Linked DNA regions of Homo sapiens: region 2 is linked to region 1. Evidence: fine-mapped expression QTL. A gene starts in region 1. The other region holds a variant in brackets. All regions are shown on one strand. Distances are between the middles of the regions.

Region 1 (5,384 bases):
CAATTTGGCTGTGAACCTAAAACTGCTCTAAAAATAAAAATTAAAAAAACTGTTCAACCTGAAATTCACTGGGGCTTTTTTTGGAAAGCAATCCTATCATCTTTAAAACTATGATTGTTTCATCAATGTAAGAAAGAACAGGAACTGTTTTTGAGACAATCTCAAAAAATGCCAATATTTTCACAAGCAAATATTCATTTTGTTGCTCCAAATCAAGTGTTATGGCAAAACTATGGAGTCAGTAAAAAGATCAGTGGTTGCCACACTTGGGGACAGGGGTGGTAGAGGAATGGCTAGGCCGAAGAGAGGATTTTTACTCTTTATGATACTATATTGGTGAACGCATGTGGTGGCACTCCTGTAATCCGAACACTTTTGGAGGCCGAGACGGGAGGATTGCTTGAGGCCAGGAATTTGAGACCAGCCTGGGCAGCATGGTGAAACCCCATCTCTACAAAAAAACAACAAAAAATTAGCCAGGTGTGGTTCCACACACCTGTGGTCCCAGCTACTTGGGAGGCTGACGTGAGAGCATCCCTTGAGCCTGGGAAGTTGAAGCTGCAGTGAGCCATGATGGCGACACTGCACTCCAGCTTGGGCAAGAGTGAGATACTGTGTCTAAATAAATAAATAAATAAATTTATTTGTCCAAGCCCATAGAGAATGAACACTAAGAGTGAGCACTAATGTAAACTACTGACTGGATGATAGTAACATGTCAATGTAGGTTCATCAATTTTAACAAATGTACCACTCTGGTGAAGGATGTTCATAATGGGGAGGCTATGCACGAGTGGGGTCAGGAGGTAAACGGGATATCTTTGTACCTTCCTCTCAATTTTGCTGTAAAACTAAAAATGCTTAAAAAAAAAAGTCTTAAAAAGAAAATCAAGAGTTAAGATGTACAGAATTGAGTGTCAGATGACTGAAGTTTTGGTCCCAGTTTAAAGTCTTACCCCTCCTCTATGCAATGAGGAGACTGAATTAGACAATCCGTGTCTTCTACCTCTTAATTTCTTGTTCTTAATCCCAATCTTTGAAGTGCACACAAAATGTTACCAGAATACTCTGTGCCATAGCTGCATACCAAAAGTAGTAAGTAGAGCCCAGAGCTATCAAAATGTTCTAGTAAATGAAGCTAATTTGGTAAGTTTTTCAAATGTTTTAGAGGAATGTTTCAACCAAAACGTTTTTTCAGTAATATGAAACATTTTAGGTCTGTATATGAAACTGCATCCAAGGTCAGGTGATCTCTAAACATTCAAGGCCCAAGGGTATTAGAAGAGCCCAAAATACTCAAACACCTAAGGATGCTCCTATGCTGAAATGGTGTTATGCTACATAATTTCAACGCCATGACAATCAAGATAGCACAACAAAGTCTCACCTACAGCCAGGAGAAAGAACAACCCGCTATCTTGTAATCAAGATTCACTACCACAGTGGTTCCTAGACATTTTCCATTATAAAGACTATACAGAACTACAAAGTTTTTAAGATGGTGAAATGGTTTGGATCTGTGTCCCCGCCCAAATCTCATGTCGAATTGTAATCCCCAATGTTGGAGGTGGGGCCTGGTGGGAGGTGACTGGATCATGGGGGCGGAGTTCTCATGAATGGCTTAGCATCCTCCTCTCCCCAGCACTGCATAGAGATGATTTCTCAACAGATGCGGTTGTTTAAAACTGTGTAGCAACTCTCCCCGTCCCTCTCTTGGTCCCGCTCCTGCCATGTAAGACGCCTGCTCCTGCTTTGCCTTCCACCATGAGTAACAGCTCCCTGAGGCCTCCCCAGAAGCAGATGCCGCTAAGCTTCCTGTACAGCCCATAGAACCGTGAGCCAATTAAACACTTTTCTTTATAAATTACCCAGCCTCAGGTTTTTCTTTATAAAAGCCATGCAAGAACTGGCTACTACAGATGGCAAGTGTCATCATTTCGTAAATGTTAAGTCTCCTTTGGTGTGAGACACACACAGCTTGCAAATAATTGTTGAATAAAAAAGCGAGTTCAAGAAACGTAGCACATTCGTTTTACGTGCATTTTCCTCATTTTGCTACTCAGTGGCTAAAACTTTGTCACAGGCAAGCCCAGAAATTGTCAGGCTGCAACCTAAGCTTATTGTTATTTCATTATGTTTACTACTCATTCAATCTGATTCATAACCTGAGTTTTTCAGCCCCCTCCCCGCCCCAGCGGTCTAGAATACTTTCCTCCCATCTCCGCTTCTCAAAAGCACCTTTTCTTTTGAATGCCTTTAGAATCTCTAACAACTATCAAGGACCATTTCCTACTCTTTCTGCTGTAAGTTATTTATGCATCTCTTTTATCTCATTCACTAGAGTAATAATTTTCATGCCCAGTACTCGCTCACACATCTTGCCTTTTGTGATTTCAATTAATCTGTAAGGTTGTAGATAATAATGATCCCCTTTTATAAACGACGGCACAGAGAAGAAAAGTAACTTGTTCTAGGTCACCCAACTTCCGACGGAACAAAACTGACATTCCAGTTTTGTGTTGGACTCGAAAGCCAACTATTTTCACGCCATTCATTCCCTCACAGTGTCTATGGGGGCCAGGTCCTACAGGGCGCTGGAGACACGAAAGCAAATGCTGCCATCCCATTTTCAAACGGGAGCCTGCTTGTCGCTAAAACCAGGCGCGCTGCTGGCTCTCCGGCACAGGGACCGCGTCGAGGCCTCTGTGCCTCCCTCCCACTTGGGTGCGCAGGAGAGGGGTGCGGACCTGGGGCGGCCGATACCAAGGGGCGGGTGAGTCGGATGCGTCCAAGGGCCTAAGTCTTCGGAGTTACATGGCGGGGCCAGGTGTGGGGGGGGTTCCCCGAGCCCTCGCGGTTCTAAGTGGGCACTGGGGGCCCGCGTACAGCAGGCAAGAGTGCAAACCAGCAGCGCCAGAAAGAGCGACGAGGTGAGGGAAGAAAAAAGGGGCGGGCAAGAGAGAGCTGGGAACCCTAAAGCGCCAACTGCGTGCGCGGCGCACGCGCATCTGGGATCGGCGGAGGGTGCTGGGTCTCCAGGCCCCACGTCTGAGGGCTGCCGCTTGCCCTCCGGCCCGGCCGGGAACAGCGAGGGTTCTCGCTGTCCTGCCGCCGGGCCCTGCGTCGCCCCACTGTTTTCCCGGCTGAGTACTCACCACCCGATTGTCCCGCTTCCCCATGGTGCTGGATCGAGCGCACAGTAGCACGCCGAGGGAAACCGGGCCGGAGAGACTGCCGAAGAGGGCCTGCCGCAGGTCCTCTTGCCGCCTCCCCACTCCGCCTAGAGAGCGGCACCACGCGGACTCGACGGCCGCGCTCTGCTACAGCGCCCCCTATCTCTGTGGAGGACAGGCCGGCTCCAGAGATCGCTGCAGTTGGCGGAGCGCCTGCAGGAGTCCGGTCGTTCATTAGGCACCCAAGAGCAGGCGACGCTGCGCTTCTGCACCGGAGCCCCACCAAGGCAGCTCGCTTCAGTTTGGCCTTGGATTGTTTTGCTTTCTTCCATTCTTTTTTTTTTTTTTTTTTTTTTTTTTTTTTTTAGACAGACTCTCGCTCCGTCGCCCAGGCTGGAGTGCAGTGGCACGATCTAGGCTCACTGCAGCCTCCACCTCCCGGGTTCAAGCGATTTTCCTGCCTCAGCATCCCGAGTAGCTGAGATTACAGGCGGCCGTCAACACGCCGGGCTAAATTTTTTGTATTTTTAGTAGAGACAGGGTTTTACCACGTTGGCCAGGCTGGTCTATAACTCCTGACCTCAAGTGATCCGCCCGCCTCGACCCAAAGTGCTGGGATTACAGGCATGAGCCACTGCGCTTGGCCTTTCTTCCATTCTTGATACACTGAAATACTCATTCGAGGGGACACAAAGATTCTCCCGATGCTTATTTTGTGCTTGACAGAGTGCAAGTGCTGGGGACAAAGTGAGGACCAAAGAGCCTTGGTCCCTCACGGAGCCCATCAGCTGGTGGGGGGAAAGGCAGTGCTGTCATAGACGCTGCTAACGAAATCACCCTTTAATTTCAATCCCATTCATTCATCACCTGTGCATTCATTTCACACTAATTTTTGAACATGTAGTTTGTACAGTTTTCACTAACTGGGTGGCTGGAAGCTGGAGCTGGGTAGGGCACAAAGATGATTAAGAAAAATCCCTATCGTCAAGGAGCCTGTTTATAAACTCGTAAGGGCAATAAACACACACAGGGCCAACTTTACTGCATAGCATATCGTAATATTGGCACTACTGCACTGCAACTTTAAGGAAGATGATCTGGGCTCCAGAGAAGATAATCATATTTAGTAAGTATTTATAGATAAAGCGACCCCTCTGGGTTCATCTTAGCAAGTATCATTAGGAAGTAGTTGAAAATCAATTAGGATCTTCTCCGGACTCTTGGAAATGGCAAAATGGGAATTACACTAATTACATACAAGAACATGCTTTAAAATCATCTTTCCCGATCTCTGCCTCCCTCCCTCCCTGCATTTTTCATGCTACACTATATGACAGATGCTCCCAACTACCATCTTCTGTCTCAAAACTTTTCCAAACTCTCACATGCAGTCCTTGGTGGTTCTGCTCCCTACTAAGTGTTGATTCTTCCTCAGTAACCCACTTTCCAAAATGAGGCCTCCAGTCTCTCATTTCTCCTCCTCCTCCATTACCCCCGACTTAAGCTGGGGACTCTGACTGAAGACAGGCTTCTTTTTATACACAAGAGGAAGAGGAGAACCTATTAATATTAAGTTATTCTTTCTTTCCTGGCTTATTTTTCATGTTTTAAATATTCTAGGCATTTGACAGATATTATTTTTAATACTCCAACATGATAAGCATGATAATACCTGTGAGAGAATATAGTTTTTTTTTTCCCTCTTCAGCTCCTTCTTACCTTTCACTTCCTTGGTTGGCTGATTGTACAGAACACAGAGATTTTTAAAAATATGGTATAAGTCAACAGAAAGGTTGTGTTTCCTTTAGAAGTCTCTCTCTCTCTGCGAGTGTACACAACCCCTCCTGGATGAAACGTGAATCCCTGGGGGGACAGAGAAACAAGAAAATGACCAGGGGCCTGTGAAGATAAGGAAGATGGCAAGAGCTATCGGGAGCTCATCTGAGTGGACTACATAAAGAACAAATCAGTCCAAGACTTCTCAGGATATAATTCAGTGACAGTAGAAATCTTTACACATTCTCTGCACATGTGTGATCTGCTAATAAATACATTTCTGTCCTAGCAGTGGGCCTACATGCCCTCCCGAATGTTCTAGGCATAACCAGGAGATTACATTCCATTTTGTGGATGAGAAAAACCGAGGCGAAGGGAAGCCGAGTAATTTGTGCCAGCTTCCACAGCAAGAAAGCAGAGAAGCTGGGGATTCAA
Region 2 (5,384 bases), 83 kb before region 1:
CATGAAGTTGCAGAATTTTCACACTGTTTTTACTCTACCAATTTTGCTATTACAGTCTATAGGACAACTGTAGAATGCCATCAGGGGCCTCAAACACAACACTTAACATAACACATATATTATTCTCTGAAGAGAGTAGATTTATTGTTAAGACTAAAAATGCTGACTGACAAAAGAACAAGACCTTAAGCCAGTGGTGGATGCATTTACCATGAGCAAGCCGCTGGCTCTGCACCGCATCAGGACTGTGCTCATGTTCCGGGACAGCAGGCAGTCCAGCAATGAGGTCAAGGTCATCCAGCAGGACAACAGATGGCTGCATCCACACTGCCTCTGAGAAAGCCACCTCTAGGGTTTTTTGTATGTTTTCAAGCCTTTTTCCTTAATACAGAAGATATGAAATGGTTTCAGTATCATTTCAGTGCTGGGAAAATTCAGGTTGTCCTTTTGAAAGCACTAGAAAAGCTCGATATTGATTTAACTATAAAAATTTGATCTATATTTTATTAATATACCCATCACAAAAACTTGTTCATCAACATGGTTCAATTAATACAGTCTCAAAGCGTGCAGTAAAGTATCAAATTTTATAAAACTCAGAAAAGGAGGCCAGGTGCAGTGGCTTATGCTAGTAATCCCAGCACTTTGGGAAACCAAGGCAGGCAGATCACTTTGAGGTCAGGAGTTTGAGATCAGCCTGGCCAACATGGTGAAACCCCATCTCTACTAAAAAATACAAAAATTAGCCAGGTGTGGTGGCATGCACCTGTAGTCCCAATTACTCGGGAGGTTGAGGCACGAGAATTGCTTGAACCTGGGAGGTGGAGGCTATAGTGAGCCGAGATCGCACCACTGCACTCCAGCCTGGGCTACAGAGCAAGACTCTGTCTCAAAAAAAAAAAAAAAGAAAAAAGAAAAGGAATATGCTACTATAATTCCTGTATGCATGTATTCATTTATACCCAGTTTCATCCCATTGAGAATTTTAGATGGCTTACAACAAAATAAAAAAAGTAGGATGTGGGAAAACATAAGTGAGAGTAAGGGATCAAGATTCATTTAAAATCAAATGCAAATGCATCTGCCTAGAGATCCTGGAGTTGCTATATTTGAAACACAAATTTGGCTTCAAACTTCCTGGTGAGTTACAAAGTTTAAATTTACAAAGAACAGGAAATACACAAGTTCATGATTAGTTGGAACTATATGACAGCGGTACCCATGGGGGAAAAATTAACTGTTCAAAGTAAAATCTTCCCAATATTTTTTAATTGAATAGATAATAATGTAAATGTTAAGGACTTTAAAAGTACAAAAGTGTTATATGGTGAACTGTAATTCTCCTCATTGCTGTCCACAGCCTCCTACTTTCTCTCCCCTGAAGCAACCATTCTCCCAGTTTTCCATAGCAATTCAGAGATCATTTATACCAATTAGAGTATATTCTAAGTACTAATTTTTCAGAGTGGTGTCAGTGAGCACTTCCAGAAATGTAGTCTACAAAAAGTTCTGGCTAGAAAAAAAAATAGGCCTCCATTAAATATGGAGAGTTTTAGAAATTTTATCAAAAACATTAGAAAGCCAAAGAAATTTTAATGACTAAATGATAAACAGAAAAGTTAAAGACTAGATGATATGTGTATTTATTAGATTGACAGCATTATGTATAACATTCCTGTCTTTCTAATGAAAAAGGGATTTATATAGAGTGTTACCATACTCATACCTCGTAAAGCTTTACAGTCAACTCTCTCCACATGGGCATCCAGTTTGTCAAATGCTTCTTTACAGATTGCTTTGGCTAAAGTTGATTTTCCACTTCCCTAGAAAATAATTGCTTTATAGGAATTCCCAATATATTCAGTCACAGAAATAGTTCCTGTCATTGTGGCAACCACCAAGATTCAGCCTCAATTTTATACAACCTCTTCCAAAAAAACAAAAGAAGAGGAGAGAATACTTCCCATCTCATTTTATGAGGCCAGATTTACACGGATAGCAAAACCAGACAAAGACAACACAAAAACAGAAAACTGCAAACTAATCACTTTCAAACTTAAATGGACAAAAGCTCAACAGAACATTAGCAGATAAAACTCAGCAATGTAGAAAGAATGATACACCACAACTACGTGGTATTTATCACAGGTATGCAAGGCTGGTTCAACATTTGTAAGTTACTCAACCCTATCAACACCTAATAGCCTAAAAAAGAAAAACCATATAATTGTATCAAC[T/C]GACACAGAAAAAGGGCATGGAGAACATCAGTCTTATTCGTCATCACTCCCCCAACACCTAAAAGCAGACACACAGAAATATTAGTGAATAAATGAATGCTTTCCATATGTCGTATAAACCCTATATAATAGATGGTCAAAACCCACCCTATATAATAGATGGTCAAAACCCAAAGAAAGATAAATGAAAAGTTATTAAATGTTACAGAAAAATGAACACACCTTAACCACTTACCTTTCCTCCTGTGAGTAAAAGAGCTCCATTCCTAAGTCCTGCAACAAGAGACATCAGCTGCCGAGACAAAGGGCGTCCCAGGAGGCTGTGAGTGATGTGCTCCAAGGAGGATACGCCTAAGGAATTCACTCCTCTGTAAAAAATATACATAGTTACATGATAAAAGACTGAAGCAGGATAAAATTTAGCTATAAAAAAATGCTGAATTTTGCCTTCCCAGTGTAGTTAATTAATTTAATTTAATTTTTTATCTTTTTTTTTTTGAGAAAGGGGCTTGCTGTGTCATCCAGGCTGGAGCGCAGTGGTGTGAACCCAGCTCCCTGCAGCCTCAAACGCCCTGGCAAAGGTGATCCTCCTGCCTCAGCCTCCCGAGTAGCTGGGACTTCAGGAGTGTAACACCACACCCAGCTGATTGGGTTTTTTGTGTGTGCATTTGTTGTAGAGACGGGGTTTTGCCATGTTGCCCAGGCTAGTCTCCAACTCCTGGGCTCAAGTGATCCATCTGCCTCGGCCCCACAAAGTGCTGGGATTATAGACACAAGCCACCATGCTCAGACTAGTTAATAAATTTTAAAAGACTAAAATCTTAGAAATTGTCCCCTACTTGAGAGAAAGTATACTGATTAATGTCGAATCTGACTTCAAGCTTTTTTTTTTTTTTTTTTTTGAGACGGAGTCTTGCTCTGTCACCCAGGCTGGAGTGCAGTGGCATGATCTCGGCTCACTGCAACCTCTGCCTCCCAAGTTCGAGCAATTCTCCTGCCTTAGCCTCCCGAGTAGCTGGGATTACAGGTGCCCACCACCACACCTGGCTAATTTCTGTATTTTTAGTAGAGACAAGGTTTCACCATGTTGCTCAGGCTCGTCTCAAACTCCTGACCTCAAGTGATCCACCCGCCTTGGCCTCCCAAAGTGCTGGAATTACAGGTGTGAGCCACCGCGCCCAGCCTCCAAGCTTTTAAAATTAGTTTTATTACTTTTAAAATATGCAGTTACTAAAAGTTTTGCCCTAATAGAACTCCTTAAGGAATCTTAACACATAAAAAAACACCTCTAGCCCCCAAATGATTTAGTTTAGTAATCAACATAATCATAAATGGGTGCTTTTGAAGTACTGAGGATAACTAAAAACTTATTTTCTCTTAAACATTACCTATGAAATCCAGTATCAATCTGTAGATTATATTTTACAAACATGAACTTTAAACTACTTCTTGACTGTGACTGCCTGCCACTTTACATGATCACATGAGAGTCTGAAGAGATTTTACTTTATGCTGGGCACAGTGGTTCACGCCTGTAATCCCAGCACTTTGGGAGGCTGAGGCAGGCGGATCACTTGAGACCAGCCTGGCCAACATGGTGAAACCCCATCTCTACTAAAAATACAAAAAATTAGGCAGGTGTGGTGGTGCATGCTTGTAATCCCAGCTACTTAGGAGGCTGATGCGGAAGGATTGCTTGAACCCAGGAGGCGGAGGTTGCAATGAGCTGAGATTGCAACACTGCACTCCAGCCTGAGTGACAAAGTGAGAGTCCATCTCAAAAAAAAAAAAAGAGATTTTATTTTATATTAATAAACACTGTGCTATAAACATTTTGACTTTATCGTTTAATCCTTTTACTAAAACATTTACAGATTATACCATTCTAAGAAATCAAATCCCTACTACTACATCTACCAAAGCTTCTGTGGAGACTTCTAAGAGGTAGTGTTTATAAGAGATTCTCATATTATATAAGAAATATGGAAATTAAGAGGAGTTTAAAAAATATTTTTTATATTTTATCTAGCCCTACTTAATCAAAAGAGGAATTTTTTAAATATTTGTTTTAAAAGTTGAGAAAAACACAAATAATCCAAATTATTACAGTAATACAAGACAGTGAAGGAATAACTTAATTTGAAATATTTTTAAACATTCAACTAATGTTTTTGGCTTTAACTTTTAAAATGTATTTATTTGTTCTAAGAATTATTGTTTTATTCAAGCATATATGATCCACGTGATATCTAGTTGCTTTCTTCTCATCGATCAATTCTCAAAGTAAAATTTCTAATAAGCTTCAGACTTCTTGTTATCGAAGAAGACAAGGTTATCCCCTACCACCAGGGATGGATAAAAACATAAAAATAAAGAGAAAAAAAAAAAGACGACAAGGCAAATTATAAGCTAGGCGTGAAGATAGAGACAATCCTTGAAAAAATATCTACTGATGCATTATTAAGATCACTTATTGACATTAACATCTACTTTAATATTTACATTGAAAACTCTGCCAGATATAGTGTTAAAAACATGTCTAACATGCTAGTTTGGCCATAACTTCTTACCCCAAAGAGCTCAGCTTTAAAAAAGGAAGAATAAAGTCAATTTCCTCACTGTTTTCTTCTTTTACCATAGGATCTAGAAGGACCTACAGTTGCAAGGAAAAATCAGTTTTACATTTCAAAGTATGTCTTTTGCATGTTTTTCTCGGGTCCCAGAAAACTAAATTGCTGATTCTGTTATACCAGAGAGAATAAATTATGCATGCAAGATCATTATTTAAACACCCTTGACAATAACAATGTACCCATCCAGGGAATATAAATATTTATGGTCAACAAGCAGAAAGAATGTTATTGCCTTAATACATTTTACAGGTATATTTTTATCTATAATTTTGATTTGTGTCACAATTATCCTTTTCACAATTCTTACATTTGTATCTTCTCCAAATGGTATTCCTTCAATAACATTTCAAAAATAAAGAAACAATGTCTAGTTCCAAAACAATGAAATTCTAAATGACTAGAGTATCTTCAATTTTATGACAAGAATGAATGTCCTAATCAAAAAATAATATTGTAAAAAGACCACTCTTGGCTGGGTGTGGTGGTTTACACTTAGAATCCCAGCACTTTGGGA

The links. PIP is the estimated chance that this variant, and not a neighbour inherited with it, causes the effect. A credible set is the group of variants that fine-mapping cannot tell apart.
Region 2: its variant is the best candidate, but not a certain one, in a credible set for the expression of FAM133B in whole blood (INTERVAL, PIP 0.67).

The regions. Positions count from the first base shown.
Region 1 is chr7:92,587,113-92,592,496 of GRCh38, forward strand. It overlaps FAM133B (family with sequence similarity 133 member B), which reads right to left and starts at 3,278. Exons shown (of 11, transcript NM_152789.4): 1 at 3,156-3,278. The coding sequence starts at 3,179. LOC105375397 (a long non-coding RNA gene) reads right to left here. Exons shown (of 3, transcript XR_927744.3): 3 at 4,908-5,036. RefSeq lists enhancers at 3,006-3,065, 3,156-3,435.
Region 2 is chr7:92,504,522-92,509,905 of GRCh38, forward strand. PEX1 (peroxisomal biogenesis factor 1) reads right to left here. Exons shown (of 24, transcript NM_000466.3): 9 at 4,808-4,890; 10 at 2,473-2,605; 11 at 1,727-1,823; 12 at 211-381. Among named protein-coding and RNA genes, the nearest start is that of PEX1, 21 kb to the right of the region's middle. The variant T/C (reference allele first, on the strand shown) is at 2,238.